Linked DNA regions of Homo sapiens. The protein of the gene in region 1 purifies or fractionates together with the protein of each later gene. This does not show direct contact. Each region holds a gene or a part of one and is shown in the gene's direction. Other genes may lie near its edges.

Evidence for each region. The genes of interacting proteins can lie anywhere in the genome.
Region 2: the proteins of TUT1 (region 1) and CPSF2 purify together in Homo sapiens (co-immunoprecipitation; 2 studies listed by IntAct, with this or other methods). This does not show direct contact.
Region 3: the proteins of TUT1 (region 1) and SART3 purify together in Homo sapiens (co-immunoprecipitation; 5 studies listed by BioGRID and IntAct, with this or other methods). This does not show direct contact.

What each region holds. Positions count from the first base shown.
Region 1 is NC_000011.10:62,588,466-62,595,556, reverse strand, and holds the start of TUT1 (speckle targeted PIP5K1A-regulated poly(A) polymerase), read left to right. Parts: upstream 1-4,033; 5' UTR 4,034-4,071; coding exon 4,072-4,153; intron 4,154-6,335; coding exon 6,336-6,526; intron 6,527-7,091. Other genes in the region: metastasis-associated protein MTA2, read left to right, coding at 65-293, 487-576, 923-1,041, 1,150-1,298, 1,517-1,682. UniProt on the Homo sapiens protein: Poly(A) polymerase that creates the 3'-poly(A) tail of specific pre-mRNAs. Localizes to nuclear speckles together with PIP5K1A and mediates polyadenylation of a select set of mRNAs, such as HMOX1.
Region 2 is NC_000014.9:92,152,969-92,159,968, forward strand, and holds part of CPSF2 (cleavage and polyadenylation specificity factor subunit 2), read left to right. Parts: intron 1-1,389; coding exon 1,390-1,490; intron 1,491-2,154; coding exon 2,155-2,355; intron 2,356-3,510; coding exon 3,511-3,663; intron 3,664-4,690; coding exon 4,691-4,916; intron 4,917-6,014; coding exon 6,015-6,314; intron 6,315-7,000. UniProt on the Homo sapiens protein: Component of the cleavage and polyadenylation specificity factor (CPSF) complex that play a key role in pre-mRNA 3'-end formation, recognizing the AAUAAA signal sequence and interacting with poly(A) polymerase and other factors to bring about cleavage and poly(A) addition.
Region 3 is NC_000012.12:108,551,174-108,558,173, reverse strand, and holds part of SART3 (spliceosome associated factor 3, U4/U6 recycling protein), read left to right. Parts: intron 1-7,000. UniProt on the Homo sapiens protein: U6 snRNP-binding protein that functions as a recycling factor of the splicing machinery. Promotes the initial reassembly of U4 and U6 snRNPs following their ejection from the spliceosome during its maturation.

The sequences.
Region 1 (7,091 bases):
GGAAGAAAGAAGGGAGCCTCAGTGCTGATTTCTGCTCTCTCTCTTTCCTATGCTCTTCTTCTAGGAGCCACACTCAAGGGGTCATTTATCCAGACCTGAAGCTCAAAGTCTCTCTCCTTACACAACCAGCGCCAACAGGGCCAAGCTACTGGCTAAGAACAGACAAACTTTCCTGCTTCAGACCACAAAGCTGACCCGTCTTGCCAGACGCATGTGCAGGGACCTATTACAGCCAAGGAGGGCCGCCCGACGGCCTTATGCTCCTATCAATGCCAATGCCATCAAAGCAGAGTGTAAGGGCAGGGAGTGGTGGGACTGGTGGTGGGTTTCGGATTGCTCTGCCCAGAGACCGTTGTTTCTCTGGATGTCTAATAACAGGAGGGATAGTAGGCCACAGATAATTTTTTTAAGATTAGAGTTGGCTTCTGGCCTTAGAGGAGACCTGAATGGTGAAGCCCTTCAGAAGCTTTCTTCTTTGTTCTCCAGGCTCCATTCGACTTCCTAAGGCCGCCAAGACTCCATTGAAGATTCACCCTCTGGTGCGGCTGCCCCTGGCAACTATCGTCAAAGATCTGGGTATGGGATGGGGACCAGTGAGGTTGGCATCAGGCTCCCAGTCCTTTCCCTGTCTGACATCTCTCCCCTTGCTTTTTTTCTTCCTCATAGTGTCCTCAGAGATTTAGTCTAACAAACTGTACTTTTGTTGTTTAATAATTTTTTTTGTAAACTATTCAGTATTACTGTACTGATTTGATAAGGTCATACTGATATTTGAAATACTAGTGATAGCTTGCCAGAACATTCCCCCATTGCTACTTTTGGGGATGCCCAGGTAAACTGCTGGTCCAGGGAAGAGAGATGGAAGTAACAAAGGGGAACTGCGTGGGAAGAAAAGGTGCGAAAGTTTTCTGTTTTTTTCCAGTGGCCCAGGCACCCCTGAAACCAAAAACACCTCGGGGTACCAAGACACCGATCAACAGAAACCAGCTGTCCCAGAACCGGGGACTGGGGGGCATTATGGTGAAACGGGCCTATGAGACTGTGAGTTGACAGAAAGGGGTGGGCCAGATTGAGTTGGGTGGGCTTTTGTCTCTCATAGGAGTCTGAGAGGGTCCCTTCCCTCATTGTGCCATCCTACCCCTTTTCCAGATGGCAGGGGCAGGGGTTCCTTTCTCTGCCAATGGAAGGCCTCTGGCTTCAGGGATTCGTTCAAGCTCACAGCCAGCAGCCAAGCGTCAGAAACTAAACCCAGCTGATGCCCCCAATCCTGTGGTGTTTGTGGCCACAAAGGATACCAGGTAAGGCGTCTACCATGGGAGGGGCTGAGAGGGACAGTCCAGGCTGGTGAGTGTGGGGAGTAGGAGTATCAGAGCAAGAGCTCCAGGAAAGTTGTGGATGCAGGGTGGGGATGCCAGAAAAGAATGGGCCAGAAGGCATAATTGCAGTGTGGGGCTTCACCTGGAGGTCTTAATGTTCTCTAAGCCTTTTCTGTTTCCCACTTGCTCTTTCTGGCCAGGGCCCTACGGAAGGCTCTGACCCATCTGGAAATGCGGCGAGCTGCTCGCCGACCCAACTTGCCCCTGAAGGTGAAGCCAACGCTGATTGCAGTGCGGCCCCCTGTCCCTCTACCTGCACCCTCACATCCTGCCAGCACCAATGAGCCTATTGTCCTGGAGGACTGAGCACCTGTGGGGAAGGGAGGTGGGCTGAGAGGTAGAGGGTGGATGCCCAGGGCACCCAAACCTCCCTTCCCTTTCGTGTCGAAGGGAGTGAGGAGTGAATTAAGGAAGAGAGCAAGTGAGTGTGTGTCCCTGGAGGGGTTGGGCGCCCTCTGGTGTTACCACCTCGAGACTTGTCTCATGCCTCCATGCTTGCCGATGGAGGACAGACTGCAGGAACTTGGCCCATGTGGGAACCTAGCCTGTTTTGGGGGGTAGGACCCACAGATGTCTTGGACAGTTTTGGGGGGAGGGTTTTTTAATTTTTTAAAAATTTTGCCTCCCTTTGTGAAAGGGGATGGGGAGGGGAAGAGTAAACAGATAACAGGTGGTGGTACCTGGTTGGGGGAGGGGGGCGTGCACTGCCATGTCTTTTTTTTTTTTTTTTTTTTTTTTTTTCCTAATTGGGGGTTTCTCTTTCTGTCCGGTGTCCGGACTTTCCTAATTGGAGTTTGAGGCCCCTAAGCTGGCATCAACCCCAGGCCACGCTCGCTCTTTCCTTCCCTCCCCTCCCCCTCTGCCTTTTGTACGCCAGTTCTCAGAAATAAAGATCTTTTGTCCGTTTTTTTAACCTCGGATTCTGTAATTGGTTCTTATAGTAACAAATAAAAAGCTGTTTTCTTCAGCTTCTCCTGGCTCAGCTGTTCTTTGCCATGGGTGTGTGTTGTGTGTGTGTTGGGGGTGTCTTTGAGAGGGAAAATAAAGGACAAAGGACAACAAAGGAGGTACAGATGGTTCTTGCCCTGGGAACAGCTTTATGAGATAGGCAGCCTGGACCCAGGCGGCTTGCTCCAGCTAGGCTTCTTGTGGGACCCAAACTGCTCCCCAGCTCCCAGTGGTGCTGGAGCTCAAGAACCATCTTGGCCCAGATTCATTCAAAGGAGTTGAGATGAGCTTTCTGGATGACTGGTGGCCTCCATAGGAAAGGGGAATGGGGGTGTTTCTTCCTCTGTTTCCCACCTCTTACTCCCCTCTCCCTTTTGTTTAAGGAATTCTGGAAGTTGCTAGCAGCCAGGGTAACATGTATACCCCCTTGGGGGTGGTGGTGGGGTTATAGGAGGATCCCCTCACCTAGCTGTGTGGTGTATTTGGCAGACGAGAATTCTACCACTGAACCACCCTAGCACCTCTGGGTGTATGTGTACAGCCTGCTGCTTCAGGATCCTCAAGGCCAGTCTCGATGATATCCCGATCCACTGTAGCACTGTTTCCTGCCTTAAAGGTTTGGGACACTGAGATTAGATGCCTGAGCTGGGCCCATTAGAAGGAACACCTTAGGATAGAGAACAAGAAGTTCAGCCTGCTGTGTGCTCCTTGGGCACTTCCTTTAGAGATGGGAAACGGCCTCAACAGTTGTGACTTGTTCAAGGTCAAAGACCTTGGTGTCTGCCTTAGGTCCACTGCTCTTTGCGCCATTCAAAGCTGTGGGCTGATAACCACAGCACAAGCTGCTGAGCCCATCTGATAGTTCTCTCCACCTCGTTATGGTCCCTGTCCCTAGGGCATCCCCAGCTCCCCGTAGTCCCTCCCTGTCCTGAGCCTACACCTCGGCGGCGTTGGGATGAACTGACAATTATACCAGGAGGGGGTTGACAGCATTCGCCCCCTCCAGTGTCTAAACTCAGTTACTGGCACTCGGTTTTGTCTTGTCGCACTGCTCTGAGGTGCGCCAGTAGCTCTGGCGCCTCCGGCGTACACCACGCAGCCCACTACTGCGGAAGGAATGGGCCTGGCTCCAGGACCTCGTGGAGTCCGGAAGGTGCCCGGTGGTGGCAGAGCTCCCCAACCAGGGCTAGAAGCCGTCGCAGAACACCCGTTTTGCGGGAGGACAGGGGGCGGAGGGAGGGAGTAACAGCCCTGAAAAGGTTGGAAGTCCAGGGACAGCCCTGGGCTCCGTGGGGCAAAGAATTGGAAGCCGCCGATCCTCCGCCTTTATTCGTCGGGTAAATAAGGGTCGAGGGTACAGACGCACGGGTGTCTACTGCGGGGTGAAGGAGCTGCCGCAAGATGCCACCCGGCGCCGGCCTTTGTGGCTGCTGTCATGAATATTCACGATGCTTTGGGCCAATCAACGTCTGAACAGCTTAAAGCACACCAATCGGCTTACCGCATGCAGATAAGCATCGTAACGCGCCGCTTTTCCTGAAACGGGCGGGGACTGGACAGCGGCTAGAAACGGAACCCAGAGTCGAAGGAGCTTGGTTTCCGGAGGAGTGTGTCCGCGCAATTGAACGACTTTATGTCACTTCCTATCGGATCGGCGGAAGTTGCTTCCGAGCGCGTTGAGCTTTGGCGAAGTGGGTTCCGGTGGTGGCAGAGGTGCTTGTGTTTTTGTCGGTACAGGAGAGTCGCTATGGCGGCGGTGGATTCGGATGTCGAATCGCTGCCGCGTGGGGGGTTCCGCTGCTGCCTCTGCCACGTTACTACAGCCAACCGTAAGCGGTGGCTAGTGAGGGACCCGGGGGTGGTTGCGGGCTTTCGTCTTTTGATCCTGGCGAAAGTTAGGGTTATAGGTAGTCAGTCGTTCTTGTCAAGTTGATTGGTAGGGTCTCTCACCTCCGTTTTTCTCTGCAAGTCCGAGGGGATTTGGAGAGTCGGGAAAGTTCCACCACATTACACTCCTCAGTATATGAAATCTCCACAACGCAAGTTTAATTGTTTTATTACTTCTTTAACCATCATCTATTGGACATATGCTCTGTGCCTGGTATTCTGCTGATCTTTAGGGTGGGGGAGGGGGGTTCAGAGATGAAGGAGCTCACCGTCTAGAGAATGAGAAAGTTTCAATGCTTTATAGATATGTTCGGAGAACTGTGGGACCACAGAGAATTAGTAACTAAATCAGAGAAGCCCTACAGAGGACCTACTCAAAGGAGGGGATGGATGAAATAGGTGTGGCATGAATGACTAGACCATAAGGTACCAGTGAGGAAGAGACAGAAGATGGGTTTGGAAAAATAGACAAGGTTCTTGTATGACACACAAGGGGTTCACTGTAACTTCAAATTCCACTTTTTTTTTTTTTTTGAGACAAGGTCTTGCTCTGTCACCCAGGCTGCAGTGCGGTGGTGTGATCTTGGCTCACTGCAGCCTCAACCTCCCGGGCTCAAACCATACCCCTGGCTAGCCTCCCAAGTAGTTGAGTCTACAGGTGTGCACCACCATACTTGGCTAATTTCTTTTTTCTTTTTTTTTTTTTTTTGAGACAGAGTCTCACTCTGTCACCCAGGCTGGAGTGCAGTGGCACGATCTTGGCTCACTGCAAGCTCCACCTCCTGGGTTCACCCCATTCTCCTGCCTCAGCCTCCCGTGTAGCCGGGACTACAGGCACCCGCCACCACGCCCGGCTAATTTTTTGTATTTTTTAGTAGAGACGAGGTTTCACCATGTTAGTCAGGATGGTCTCGATCTCCTGACCTCGTGACCCGCCCGCCTCGGCCTCCCAAAGTGCCGGGATTACAGGCCTGAGCCACCGCGCCCGGCCTACTTGGCAAATTTTTTAGTTTTTTGTAGAGATGGGTTTTCACCATGTTGCCTAGGCTGGTCTCCAATTCCTGGCCTCAAGCGATCTTCCCATCTTGGCCTCCCAAAGTGCTGGGATTACAGGCGTGAGCCAATGTGCCCAGCCCTACTTTTGAAGTCTGGAATCACAGTGTTCCCTAAACAGGGTTTACTTCCATTCTTCCTTTTCACTGTGAATGGCACTATCACTGTTCATCCAGTAAGCCAAGCCAGAAACCTAGGAGTCTTCTTTGGCCCCACATTTACTTTGGTGACATCAAGCAGCTAACTCAATAAAATAATAGCAACGGTTAGTTTTTCAACATTTACCGTGTACCAGACTCTCTCTGCCAAGTGATATATCTGAATAATACCTGTGTGTGAGGTGCTAGATACTGATATTTCCATTTTATATCTGAGGAAGTTGATGCACAGTGAGGCTTCATAACTTGACCAAGGTCTCACACAGGTTGACAGAGCTGGGATTTGAACTTGGGCAATGTAATTTCAGATCCTGCCTTTGACATCACTATATTATACCATGTCCAAAGATGATCCACAAAGTATTCCATGATCCAAATTTTTTTAGTTCTTGTGTAGATGACCTGGATAAGTTACCTGTTAATTTGTTTCCAACTCTACCTAGCACAAATAGGTGGTTTAAGAAATACTTTACTATCACACTGTTCTTTAAGTAAAAATAAACAAAATACTTGTAGTGTAGCCAGTTCTCCTGGGAACCCTCGTCTCTACTAAAAATACAAAAATTAGCCGGGTGTGGTGACACACGCCTGTAGTCCCACCTACTCACGAGGCTGAGGCAGGAGAATTTCTTGAACCTGGGAGGCAGACGTTGCAGTGAGTGGAGACTGCGCCACTGAACTCCAGCGGGGGCGACAGTGAGACTCTGTTTAAAAAAAATAAATTAAAAAAAAAAGAATGTACTATTTAGACAAATGTATAAGAGAGGAAGGTGAAAGGAGCCAGGACTTTGTTTATTCAAAGGTCACAGTTTCTGTGGCTTGGAAGGATCAGTAAGATTTAGGTATGCAGAGAGCAAAGGCAGACACGTCGAAGAGTGCTTTGCATGTTTTTGTCTCACACTTGTCTTTGCAGGACCCAGCCTTGATGCCCACTTGGGAGGCAGAAAGCACCGGCACCTGGTAGAACTACGAGCTGCGAGAAAGGCCCAGGGACTTCGAAGTGTGTTTGTCAGTGGCTTTCCCAGGGATGTGGATTCTGCTCAGCTCTCTGAGTACTTCCTAGCATTTGGACCTGTGGCCAGTGTTGTCATGGACAAGGACAAGGTAAAGTGAATGGCTCTCGGGTTAAAGAATGAATCAGTGCTGGGCGCGATGGCTCACGCCTGTAATCCCATCACTTTGGGAGGCTGAGGCAGGCGGATTACCTGAGGTTAGGAGTTTGAGACCAGCCTGGCCAACATGGTGAAACCCCATCTCTACTAAAAATAAAAAATTAGCTGGGTGTGATGGCGCATGCCTGTAGTCCCAGCTACTTGGGATGCTGAGGCAGGAGAATCGCTTGAACCCGGGAGGTGGAGGTTGCAGCAAGCTGAGATCGTGCCACTGTGCTCCAGCCTGGATTACAGAGCAAGACTCCGTCTTAAGAAAAAAAAGAATGAATCAGATGTGCTGTGTACCAAAGAGACAAGAGAGAGAAACCAACAGCCTCTTTGAGCTGGTTCCTAATGTGGCTTATTCTTGATGGACATCACAGTACTTGGGCTAGACCAGCTTTGGGAGCTTCTCACACCTCCCCCACCCCTTGAATTTTTATTTTTATTATTATATTTTTGAGTGCAGTGGCACAATCTCAGCTCACTGTGACGTCTACCTCCTGGGTTCCAGCAAT
Region 2 (7,000 bases), on another chromosome or scaffold:
ATTGCTGCAATGTACGAATGTACTTTTTTTTTACACATTTGTGATTGTTTCAGTAGGATAAATTCCTAGAAGTAGAAATACTGTGTCAAATGTCAAATTTTATTTTTAGATGTTAGCAAATTGCCTTTTAACATAGTTGCACTAATTTTCCAACAGATAATGGAAGAAGGTACTCTTTCCCCATGTATGGCATTGCCAATCTCATAGATGAAAACAATTATGTTTTTTATATTTTGTGCTTTTCAAAAATTAGTAAAATTAAGGATCTTTTCATGGCCAGTAGTTATTTGTCTTTCTTATTTTGTAAATTGCCTTTTTAAGTATCTTGTGCTTTTTCATGTGTTGATCATCCTTTTCTTAACTAATTTGGAAGAGCTCTTAGGAAAAAATCATTTTTATTGGTCGTAGTGCTGAAAATATTTTTCTGTTTCTTTTTTGTTTTTCTTTTCAGTTTCTTATTTTGAGATTTAAAATGTCAAAGGGAGTTTTTCTTTATTCATGTTGCTGTATTTATTTATGTTTCCCATTATGGCTTTTGGGCCTCACCTACTCCAAATTATAAAAATGCTTATCTGTATTTTCTTTTCCTGATTGGTGATTTTTAACCAGTTTGATTGTTTGGTTGATTGAGACAGGGTCTTGCTCTGTCAGACTGAAGTGATCCTCAGTCTCAGACTCAAGTGATACTCAGTCTCTGAGTAGCTGGGACTACAGGTGCATGCTACCACTACTGGCTTTTTTTTTTTTTTTTCTGAGACAGAGTATTGCTTTGTCACCCAGGCTGGAGTACAGTGGTGTGAGCACAGCTCACTGCAGCCTTGACCTCCCAGGCTCAAGTGATCTTCCACTTTAACCACCTGAGTAGCGGGGACAACAGGCACATGCCACCACTCCTGGCTTTTTTTTTTTTTTTTTTTTATGTGGAGACAAAGTCTCATTATGTTGCCCAGGCTAGTCTCAAACTCAAGTGATTTTCCTGCCTTGCAAAGTGCTAGGATTATAGGTGTGAGCCACCGTGCCCAGCCTCCCAGCTAATTTTTAAATTATTCCTAGAGACAGAGTCAACCTATGTTGCCCAGGCTGGTCTTGAACTCCTGGCCTCAAGCAGTCCTCCCACAGTGCTAGGATTATAGGTGTGAGCTACTGTGCCTGGCCAACCAGTTTGATTTAAATTAAACCCATTCTAGATGATGTGTGACAGCTCAATTTTAATACTAATCTAAATAGGACCTATAATTGTATGTAATGGAAACTTGATTAATTTCAGAGGAAACAATCAGTTTAAAGATGATAGAGCAATTTAGAGATGTGATGTATCTCATATCCCACTGCTTTAACCCCCTAATATTAACATATTAACATTTCCTTTTGTCTTTTATTTTTTTTTAGTTGAGGAAACGTGTGAAGCTTGAAGGGAAAGAACTTGAAGAATACTTGGAAAAAGAGAAACTAAAGAAAGAAGCTGCCAAAAAGCTTGAGCAGTCAAAAGAGTGAGTCATTTTCAGACAGATTATAAATTTATGGATGCAATTTGAGAAGAATGTGTCCTTGACTTAAATGTTTCATTGAAAATATTTTTAAATTTTCGTAAGACTTAATTTTGTTACAGACATCTTTCAAATGTCTAGAATACCAGATCCTGTCAGTGCTAATATTATTATGCATTTATTTGTTATGTTTTATAAAATGTCAGTCCAATAAAGTTGAATGTTATTCCAGTCATGCATCACTTAATGATGGGGACAGTTCTGAGAAAAGTGTCGTTAGGGGATTTAGTCATTGTGCAAACATTAGGATATATGTTTACACAAACCTTGATGGTATAGCCTACTGTGTATCCAGAGTATATGATATGGCCCATTGTTCCTAGGCTACAAACCTGTACAGCATGTTACTGTACTGAATACTGTAGGCCATTGTAACACAATGTTAAGTATTTGTGTATCTAAATGTATCTAAACATAGAAAAGGTACAGTAATCTTATGGGACCTCTGTTGTATATGTGGTCTATTGTTGTTGACCGACATAACTGTATATTATCATTTAATATTGAATTAATAATATTGAGTATGGATTCAGTAATAAATTGATAAATATTAATTTAAAATATCTTTGAAACTTTATGACCTTGATCTATTCTAAAATCCTCCTAGGGCAGATATAGATTCCAGTGATGAGAGTGATATTGAGGAAGATATTGACCAGCCATCAGCTCATAAGACGAAGCATGACTTGATGATGAAAGGTGAAGGCAGTCGTAAAGGAAGTTTTTTCAAACAGGCAAAAAAGTCCTATCCTATGTTTCCTGCCCCAGAAGAAAGAATTAAATGGGATGAATATGGAGAGATTATCAAGTATGTGAGCAAAACAAACTTTTCTCTCTTACAAATTGGAGGTATTAACTGTGTTATCATTTCATTTCAGTGAATTTGATCTTTCACTTGATCTTTCTAGTCACATGTATGGGGTTAGCTTCTGAGTACCTCAGCCTGAAGACACAGAAGACTTGTAACTTGAAACATAAAAATAGAGATGCTGAGAAACATCTAGAGAATATTGAGAGAAAACTGGCAGTTTATGACTTAGTTGTGTAAAGGTTTAAAAACATGATCACGTGATCAAGACTTTTTTCCCCCACTTAAAAAGAGAGGAAGATGTAGGATAGGAAGAACTTTGGGGCTGTGTGTGGTGGCTCATGCCTGTAATCCCAACACTTTGGGAGGCCGAGATGGGAGGATCACTTGAGCTCAGGAGTTTGAGACCAGCCCAGGCAATATAGTGAGACCCCCATCTCTATCTTTAAAAAAAAAAAAAGAACTTTGGATGGCTGGTGATTGCATTTCCAATGGATTATGTCTTAAGTATTATACAAGTTTTATGAGATTAAGAGGAATGTGAGATAGCATGAGTGAAATCATGGAAAAATCTACAAAATCTATACTGACTATTAGAAAAACAACTGCAATCACATGTTGTAATTGCAAATTTGAAAACACTACTATCCTGTGTGGAAAATAAAAAAAGAAAAACATGATACAGGCCAGGTGTGGTGGCTCACGCCTGTAATCCCAGCACTTTGGGAGGCCGAGGCAGGTGGATCATGAGGTCAGGAGTTCAGGACCAGCCTGGCCAAGATGGTGAAACCACATCTCCACTAAAAATACAAAAAAATTAGCCGGGCGTGATGGCAGGCACCTGTAATCCTAGCTACTCTGGGGGCTGAGGCAGAGAATTGCTTGAACAGGGAGGCGGAGGTTGCAGTGAGCCGAGATGGCGCCACCACACTCCAGCCTGGGTGACAGAGGGAGACTCTACCTCAAAAAAAACCAAAAAACGCAATACATACAGCCATCTGGTAATTGATATGAAATTGCATCAGCTTTGGATGAAATGTATATTTAAATCTTGAGATATGTGAGGACTCCAAAAATTATGCCACCTACTAGTCATATATGTTATGTAGTATTAGCTTGCTTTTTACTGCTTCTAATTAGAGACTTATTATTTAGACCAGAGGATTTCTTAGTGCCAGAGCTTCAAGCTACTGAAGAAGAAAAAAGCAAATTAGAATCTGGTTTGACAAATGGAGATGAACCTATGGATCAGGATTTATCTGATGTTCCTACTAAATGTATTTCTACAACAGAGTCTATTGAAATAAAGTAAGTGCTTTTGTGACATTTTGAAAATAGATTATAAGATAAAATTTCAAGCATTTGAATTATATAATTTACATTATGTCAAGCAAAATTTCTGAATATTCTTTAGTAAGTTTGTGCTTTTAAAATTTATTTTTGTATGAAGAGACTTGTGAAGTATGGTGGCATGATATTTTCTCTTCATTAATGGTATTTGAATGCCAAAGTAATTGAATTGGTGGTGGTGGGGGGTGCTTAAATTGTAACATTAAATTGTACATTTATATGAAGAAAAATTATTTTTGGCCTTTTTATTCTGTAAGCAGGTGAAAGGGAATAATGTGACTCACAGTTTAATTTTTCTGAGTAACTGCTTGTTTCATAAAATATACTCCTTAACTTAAACATCTCTAAGACCCTAATGTCTGGAAAATACTGTTGTGATCTGAAGTAGTTAGAAACCTTTTTTCTCCCGCTTTCTACTTAGTTAAATAATACCAGTAAGTGATCATTTTGGAATTTCTTTTAAGTCATCAGAGAACAAAGTTTTTTATTTGTCCAGTAATATCATTTAGTATATATTTTTGGGTGTAGATAAAATCTAAATAATACAGATAGGGCCGGGCACGGTGGCTGATGCCTGTAATCCCAGCACTTTGGTAGGCCGAGATAGGCTGATCACTCGAGATCAGGAGTTTGAGACCAGCCTGGCCAACATGGTGAAATCTCATCTCTACTGAAAATGCAAAATTATCCCTGCGTGGTGGTGCATGCCTATAATCCCAGTTACTTGGGAGGCTGAGTCAGGAGAATCACTTGAACCTGGGAGGTAGAGGTTGCAATGAGCGAAGATCATGCTACTGCACTCTAGCCTGGGCAAAAGAGCGAGACCCAATCTCAGAAAAATAAAAACAAAAATAAAATAAATCATACAGATACTATAACATGTGTATTTCTCAAATCCTAGTGTTATATATTGTATACATGATAAAAGCCATTTTTTTTTAGAATTATGAGAAAAGTAATCTTGAATAATCATATCTAATTACAGAGCCCGGGTTACCTACATAGACTATGAAGGACGCTCTGATGGGGATTCCATTAAAAAAATCATTAATCAGATGAAACCACGACAGTTGATCATCGTCCATGGCCCACCAGAGGCCAGTCAAGATCTGGCAGAGTGCTGTCGCGCCTTTGGTGGGAAAGATATTAAAGTGTACATGCCAAAGCTACATGAAACAGTTGATGCCACTAGTGAAACTCACATCTACCAGGTAAACATGCCAGGAGTTGCCATTGAGTAGAAATAAGTACTTTTTGTTGCAGGTTAGGACAGATAACATTAGAAATACCGAGATGTGTGAGACAGACATGGATGGTCTCCTGCCCTAGCAGACCTCATAGGGTATGGGGCTTAGAACAAGGAAATACCATTTATCATGTTGTTGTGCCACTGAGAGAAGAAGTACAGGATGCTATGAGAGTATCAAGAGGGGAAACCACCCACATTTAGAGGTTTAGAAAAGGTTTCCTACAGGAAGTGATAACTAATCCTAACTGATGTTTAGATGGGTTGTCAGGACAGACAGAGTAGGAAAGGGGGGGAAGAGCGTTCTAGGCAGAGGGAACCATATTTGCAAAAGTACAGAGGTGAGGAAAATGATTAAGAATTCAAAAGTTTTAGAAGAATTCCCGGATATCAAGGTTCTACTCCTAATTGGAACAAATGGAGATGGATACCAAATATAGGACTAGCACAGTAGAGAGATAAATTTTGTCTGGTAATGGGAGATGGTGTCAGTTTAAGGCCAGAGTGATGTCTATATCTGGAAGAAATGGATGTGCACATACCAGGCAGGAAATTTATTCTGGGCAGAGTAAGAAGAAGCAACCTTCCAAGAATATGGAGATGTGAAATTCTGTGGTATATTCAGGAAAGGACAAGCAGTTCAGTACCTACTGAAGTATGCCAAGTACTAGAGGATGGGAGTGATCAGTGGTTCTCAACCTTGACTGCACATAAGAATCATCTGGGGAGCTTCGTGAGGGTCAGAGGGACTCAGTTTTTCTGGTCTTAATCTTACCAGTTATGTTAGAAACACTGGATATGACGCTCTGATATACTTTTTGTTTTAATTGCCATGTGATTCCATTTTGTAGTCAGGGTTAAGAATCTCTATTTTGGAAAGTAGGCAGGGGCCCAATGATCTGCAGGTAATGAGGTCATTGCAGGTCATTGTGGGACTCAGATGAGTGAAAGATTTTCCAATTTTAACATATTACCAGAGGTAGAAAATGATAATAGGTTATATTTAATTTGTTAATATGTATTCTGTGGGTTTTATTTCTCTCCCCCTCCTTTGCATGTCTAGGTGAGGTTAAAAGACTCACTTGTCAGCTCTCTTCAGTTTTGTAAGGCAAAAGATGCTGAATTAGCTTGGATAGATGGTGTCTTAGATATGAGAGTTTCCAAAGTGGACACAGGGGTTATTTTAGAAGAAGGAGAACTAAAGGATGATGGAGAAGACTCAGAGATGCAAGTGGAAGCTCCCTCAGATTCTAGCGTTATAGCACAACAAAAGGCCATGAAAAGTCTGTTCGGAGATGATGAAAAAGAAACAGGTGAAGAAAGTGAGATCATTCCTACTTTGGAACCCTTGCCACCTCATGAGGTAAAAAAAGCATGTGCTTTTTTGATTTCTTCCTGAATTTGTCATCCTTCTAGTTTTCATGTCTTTTGGTTTTTTTCCCCCCTTCTAAAACTAAGTGGGTCTGTGGAACCTTTTATATTTTTAACCATTTAAAATATATGTCAGCTGGGGGCAGTGACTCACGCCTGTAATCCCAGCACTTTGGGAGGCTGAGGTGGGAGAATTGCTTGAGGCCAGGAGCTCTACATCAGCCTGATTATAGGGACACCCTGTCAGAAACCTAGTCGGCATGGTGGCATGCACCTGTAATCTCAGCTTAGAAGGCTGAGGCAGGAGGATTGCTTGAGCTCAGGAGTTCGAGACTACAGTGAGCCACAATTGTGCCACTGCATCTAGCCTATATGATAGAGTGAGACCCTGTCTTGAACATAAAATATGTCTCACATTTGGGCTGATTTTGGAGTTTTTAAAAAAGAGAACTTGTGACATGCTTCTGTGTGTATGTCTCTGTGTATATATTAATTCTATATAGCTAAGGAATGACATATCTTTAGCAAATCTTTTAAGGTACATAATTGTTTCATGATTTTTTTTTTTTGGTCTGGATTTTTAAATTTTAAGTTTGATGATTGTGAGGATCACCTGCCTGCTTCCAGTCAGGAGATTTATAGTTTTCTAAGAAAGTCATACTGTTTTTTTTTTGTTTT
Region 3 (7,000 bases), on another chromosome or scaffold:
TTTTTTTTTTTGAGAGCATCTCACTCTTGCCCATGCTGGAGTAGTGGTGTGATCATGGCTCACTGCAGCTAGGACCTCCCAGGCTCAAGTGATCCTCCCAGCTCATCCTCCAAAGTATCTCGGACTACAGGCATGCACCCCCATGCCTGGCTAATTAAAAATATTTTTTTTTTGTAGAGATGGGTTCTTACTATGTTGCCCAGGCAGGTGCTGAATTCCTGAGCTGAAGTGATGCTCCTGCCTCAGCCTCCCAAAGTGCTCGGATCACAGGCGCAAGCTACTGCACGTGGCCTTGATTATATTTTATGGTAGCTGGCAGTTTGCTGTGGTATCTGTCTAACAAAAGCAAATATTTTCCATTATATGTGTTTGTGCGCTGAAATTAAAAGTGGCACTTCATGGTGGCTTCGGCAGATTTGTCAGTGCAGCAGTACGGAGACTATGGCTTTGCAACCCTGAACCCAAGCCTTCCATTGAGTAGTGGAAAGGCCTTGTACAAGTTATTTCAGCTCGCAGAGTCTTGGGTGTCCCAGTTAGTAAAATGAAGGTTGTAATAGTGCTTTCCTCATGGGACTGTTGTGGGGCATGGCACAATGTGCGTAAAGCGCCTGGCACAGTTTGGCGCATAATAGGTGCTGCTCCATTCTCCCTTCCCTGCCTTTGATTGCACCAGTTGTTTTCTTTCCATCAGTCCTCTCTATTATTTCTCCCCCATTCTAGTACAGCTAGGTATAACACATTTTTCACATTGCTAGGGAGTTAAATCAGTTAGCAGATCATTTTGTGATTGGTTAAGTTTCCTTTAAAGCATCTATGTTGTTAATCCCAGCTACTCGGGAGGCTGAGGCAGGAGAATCGCCTGAACCCGGGAGGCAGAGGTTGCAGTGAACTGAGATCACACCACTGCACTCCAGCCTGGGTGACAGAGCAAGATTCCACCTCAAAAAAAAAAAAAAAAAAAAAAAAACTATGTCATTAATGATGTTCTAAGACCAGAATAGACCAGCATATGTACTCATTTATCAGTATAGATTGAACTATGTGGAAATAGCTCTTTTAAGTGCATTTCAGTATGTATTTAATATATGTACTTTCAGAGTACTTGTCCACATATAGTATCTTCATCATTTTACCCTAAAAATCAGAAGTTTACACCAAAAGCCACACCTTAAAAGTCAGCTTCTTGACTTTAGCGACTTTTATACCTTTTTCTTCTGCTGATCCACACATGGTGTTCATGTGAGGGGCACTTGCATGCATAGATATTCGTGACACTGACTAGCAAGTGCTCTCCCACTCCTGTTTGTGCTCCGCAAGCACACTCTATTGAGTTCAGACTGGTGATGTGGTGGGGAGAGCCTTGAATGTTCTTTAATGAAGAAAGTGTATCCTTCTCAAACTTCACTTCTCAAACATCCCAAACTGCGGTTACTTTGTGTGACACACTTGATAGGTGATTTTGAAACATCAGTGTGTCATGATAGCCCATTTAAGAACCAGAGCTTTAGCCCAGCTCTTTCATGGTACAGATGAGGAAACAGAACAAGTGGGGATTAGAACACTTGTGTCCTGATCTGGTCCAGTGCTTTTCAGCCTATCGTGTGATCATCGGATGAGTTCAGCTTCTCAGGTTTTATGAATCATAAGCAGGAGAACATTGCTAAAAGTCTTAAGATTTAAAACTTAGAGATCATGTTCTTATCTGTAATTGATTATTATCTTTTGGCATGTAATTTGATAAATACAAAGCAGTTCACATCATGTACAAGAGTTTCTCACCAGATGCAGTGGCTCACACCTGTAGTCCTAGCATTTTGGGAGGCTGAGGCAGGATGATCCCTTGAGCCCAGGAGTTTGAGACCAGACTGGGCAAGATGGTGAGACCCTGTGTTTACAAAAAATAAATTTAAAACATTTAGCTATGTGTGGTGGCATGAGCTTGTAGTAGCAGCTACTCAAGAGGCTGAGGCGGGAGGATCACTTGAGCCTGGGAATTTGAGGCTGCAGTGATTTGTGACTGCCACGGCACTCCAGCCTGGGTAAGAGTGAGACCCTGACTCAAAAAAAAAAAAAGAGAGTTTCTCAAAGTCACTGTTTTTCAACCTGGGGGTCATAGTCATAGGTTGTGAATTTATTTTAGCTGAAACAGCAAGTGCCACCTGAGCCATAGTGTTTTTCAACTGCATGGGTCTGTTTTGGGCTCTCTCTTCAGTTTGTCTATCCTGTGCCAATTCCACTGATTAACTTATTGCTAAGGCTTGCTATCTGGTAAGACAAATCCTCCTACCTGCTTTTTTTCTTTCCTTGCAGGGTGTTTTGGCTCTTTCATATAAATTTTAGAATTATTTTGTCAAGGTCTGTGAAAAACCCTGTTGGTTTTTTTATTTGAATTGCATTGAATTTATGGATTATTTAGGGGAGAATTGACGTCTTTGCCATAATGATTATTCTAACCCAGAACATGCATATAACTCCATTCGTCTAGGTATTGAATATTCTTTCTATTTTTGAGACATGGTCCTGCTCTGTTTCCCAGGCTGGAGTACAGTGGCATGATCTCAGCACACTGCAACCTCCGCCTGCTGGGCTGAAGCGATCCTTTCACCTCAGCCTTTCGAGTAGCTGGGACCACAGGCATGTGCCACCAGACTCAGCTAATTTTTACAGTTTTTGTAGAGACGGGGTTTTGCCCTGTTGCCCAGGCTGGTCTTGAATTCCTGGACTCAAGTGATCTGCCTGCCTCGGCCTCCCACAGTGCTGGGATTACAGGTGTGAGCCACCGCCCCCGGCCAAGTCTTTAATATCTTTCAATCAAGTTTAAAAACATTTTGCCATAGAGGTCTCACACATCTTTTGTTAGATGTATTTCTAGGTACTTTATAGTGCTTGATGTTTATGCTATCCTATTTAAAATTACATTTTAAAGCTTGCTGGTTTATAGAAATGTAATTTTTTTATTGTAAAAAACATATAACGTAAACTTTGCTATCTTATTCTTAAGTGTATGGTTCAGTAGTGTTAAGTATAGTCACATTGTTGTGAAGCAGATCTCCAAAGTTTTCATTTGCATATATACAACTCTACCAATTAAACAGCTCTCCTTCTCCTTCCTTCCCAATCCCCTGATAACTACCATTGTAGTTTTCTGTCTCTATGAATTTGACTAGATACTTCATATAAGTGGAATCATACAGTATTTGTCTCTTTGTATATAATTGATTTTTATACATTGCTCTTATTGCTTGTCACTTTGCTAATCTTGTTTATTATTTCCAAATGATTTGTTTGTAGATGAGTTTTGGTTTACTATACATTGATATCATCTGACCATAATTAACAGTTCTCATTCTTTTCTCTATATCTGTTTCTTTTCCTTGTCTCATTGTTAAAACCCCAGACCTCCAGTACAGGGTTAAATAGAAGGCAATACTGGGAAGTTTTTTGTGTTTTTTAAAAGGAATTTTAATGTATTATTAAATTTACTAAATATAAATATATAAATATATAATAAACAATATAATAAATATATAAATATGTTATTAAAATATATTTATTGCAGATTTTAAAAATCAGGTTAAGGAAGTGCCTTTCTATTCCTAGTTTGCTAATTCTTAATTTTGACTCATGAATGGATGTTTTAATCAAATGCTATTTCTTCATTGAGGTAATCATGTTTTTTTCCCTCAAATCTGATGGTGGAAAAATTATACTGGATGATTTTGTAGTGTAAAAACACCCTTGCATTCCTGGGATAGACCCAAATTGATCATTATGTATTGTTCTCTTTATACATTTCTGATTTTTTAATATTTTATTTAGGATTTTTGTATTAATGCTCTTGAGTGAGATTGACATGTAATTTATTGAATTCTGTGTGCCAGGTAGGTAAAGAATCTAACCAAGTCAAGGATAAGACATACAAGGTACTTATCCCATGAAGCCTTTAGGTCATGATGGAAATAAACACGATGATGAGATGGAAAACAGCTTGCAGCATATAGGGGGCTACTTAAGAAAGAGTGGCATAGGAGGGGGGCCGGGGGCGCCCTCTGAGGAAGTGAAGTTTATACCTGAAGTATGAAAAGGGGTGGCTAGGCAGAGAGAAGGTGAGAGATCCTTCTGGGCTGAAGGAGCAGCAGGTGCCTAGCCCTGAGGTTGGAGAGACGTTGGAATGTTTGAGTTACACGAAGCTGGCTGCCATGTTGAGAGGCCGGTGGTTTGAGATGTAGCTGGAGAGATGAGCCCAGCATGCTGGGATTGCACATGAGGCAGGGATTTGCAAATTGTTCCTAGGATACTGGGAAGCCATGGAAGGGTTTTACTATTATAATTAGTAGAGAAAGATAATGAGTTCTTGTTTAAAATCTAAACACTTGAACAAAACCCCGTAATCCTTCATATTTGTATTCTCTGAATGGTTGGTCCTTGTCCCCACTCCATTTAAAGGTTCACTGGCTACTTCATTGTTAAGATTTTTATCCTAAAGTTCAAGTAATCATATTCATTGGCTGTCTTTCTGTATTTTAATTAAATATCTAGTACCTGGATTATTAGGGTATGTTGTCAGATGGTAGAGTGTAATTTGAATGAAGTGTAGGTAATCTTTTATCTCTGGAGAGGGAAATATTCCTAAAATGTGGCAGATGTTGGAAGAGTAGATACTAATGAAGTCTTGGTGTACAGACTTAAATTATCCCTATATCCCAACAAAAGCTTTTTAAACAATTCGCCTTTTTATTTTGAGATAATTGTAGATTTCCATGCACTTGTAAGAAATAATAGAGATTTTTCGTGTACTTTTTACCCAGTTTCCCTCAATGATAACACTTTGAGGAACTATAATATGTAATAACCTGGGTATTGACATTGATATAGTCAAGATACAGATCAGTTCTGTCACCTTAAGGATCCTTGATGTTGCCTTGAAATTTTTCTCTTGTCCTAACATTTTGTGATGTTATATTTACATTTCACATTTAAGTGTGATCCATTTTGAGTTATTTCTGTAAGGCGTGAAGTTTAGGTCAAGGTGTATTTATTTGTTTTGCCTGTGGATATCCATTTGCTCCAGCATCATTTTTTGAAAATGCCTTTTTTTTTCCTCTGTTGCATTGCGTTTGTCAAAAATTATTTGGGCATATTTGTGTGGGTCTGTTACTGGGTTCTATTCTCTTCATCTATGTATCTTTCTGCCATTCTCACACTGCCTTGATGATTGTAGCTGTATTGTAGGTTTTAGTATCAATCAGGTAGAGTGATTACTCCCACTTTATTCTTTTTCAAGATCATTTTTAGCTATTCTAGGGCCTCTGCCATCCCATATACATTTTAGAATAAGCTTGTCTAGGTCTACAAAAAACCTTGTTGGGATTTTAATTGGAGTTTCAGTAAGCCTGTAAGTCAGTTTAGGGAGAATTTACTTCTTGACTATGTTGAGTTTTTCAATCCATGAACATGAAGTGTCTCTTTTTTTAGGTCTTTGATTTCTTTCCTCAGCATTTTGTAATTTTCAGCATACAGATTTTGTAAACTTTTTAAATATACACCTAATTATTTAGGTTTTTTGGAGTGATTGTAAATGGTGCTATGTCTTTAAATTTGGTTTCCACATGTTCTTTTGTTTTTTTTTTTGTTTTTGTATGTTTATCTTATATTCTGTGACCTTGCTCAGTTCACTATTTTTGGAGTTTTTTTTTTTTTTAATTGGTTCCTTAAGATTGTCTACTTAGCCATATCATCTACAAATCAGGACAGTTTTATTTTTCCGAGCTGTATAGCTTTTATTTCTTTTCCTTGTCTTATTGAACAGGCTAGAACTTATAGGACTTTGTTGGAAAAGAGTGGTGAGAGCAGACATCCTTGCCTTGTTCTTGATTTTAGGAGGAAAGTGTTCAATCTTTTACCATTAGGAATGATGTTAAGGTAACCCTATATCCCAACTTATGGGATAGATTTTTTATAGATGCTCTTTATCAGGTTGAGGTTGTTTCCCTCTATTCCTAACATGCTGAGTGTTTTAACCATGAATCGTTGTTGGATTTTGTCACATGCATTTTCTGCATCTATTGATACCATGAGTTTTCTTTAGCCTTTTGATACACTGGATTACAGTAATTGATTTTTAAATGTTGAATTAGCCTTGCAAACCTGGAATAAATACCACTTGGTCATGGTGTATAATTCTTCTTATACACTGAATTTAGTTCTTTAAATTTTCCTCCGTACTGTTTTAGTAGCATCCTACTTATTTTGATTTGTTGCAATTTCATTTTCATTCACTTTTTTTAATTTGTAAATTTTCTTGGAGACTTCCTCTTTGACCTGCAGATTATTTAGAAGTGTATTACTTAATTTTCACGTGTTCAGAGATTTTCTTACTGTTAGTGGTTTCTAATTTGATTCCATTGTGGTCACAAAACATACTCTGCATGGTTTTCATTTCTCTTAAATTGTTGAGGTTTGTTTTATGGCCAAGGATATGGCTTCAGTGAATGTTCCGTAAGTACTTGAGAAAAATACATATTCTGTATTGTTGGGTGGGCTGTTCTCTATATAAATTAGGTCATGTTCGTTGACGGCGTTATTGAGTTCTTCTATAACCCTGTTCTGCCTAGTTTAAAAAAAAATTAAACAATTTCCTTTCTTTTTAAAAACTTAAAAATTTTTTAATTTGCTTTTGTCTAATTTTCTTTTTCTTTTATTCATCTTCTTTTTGACCAGGTTCAACATATTCAAGTGTCTAGTAGTTTTATCAGTTGCTGAAAAGGGAGATGTTGAAGTTGCCAAATGTAATTGCTGCTGTGTCTCTTTGAGCTCTGTAATAGTTTTTGCTTCATGAATTTTCAAGCGCTCTTTGGTTCCTACACATTTAGGATTGTTATGTCTTCCTGGTAGATTGATCTATTTATTATTATGTGTCATTATATAATCCTTTTTATCTCTAGTAATTTTCTTTGCTCTGAAGTGTACGTTATGTGATATTAATATGTCCGCTTCAACT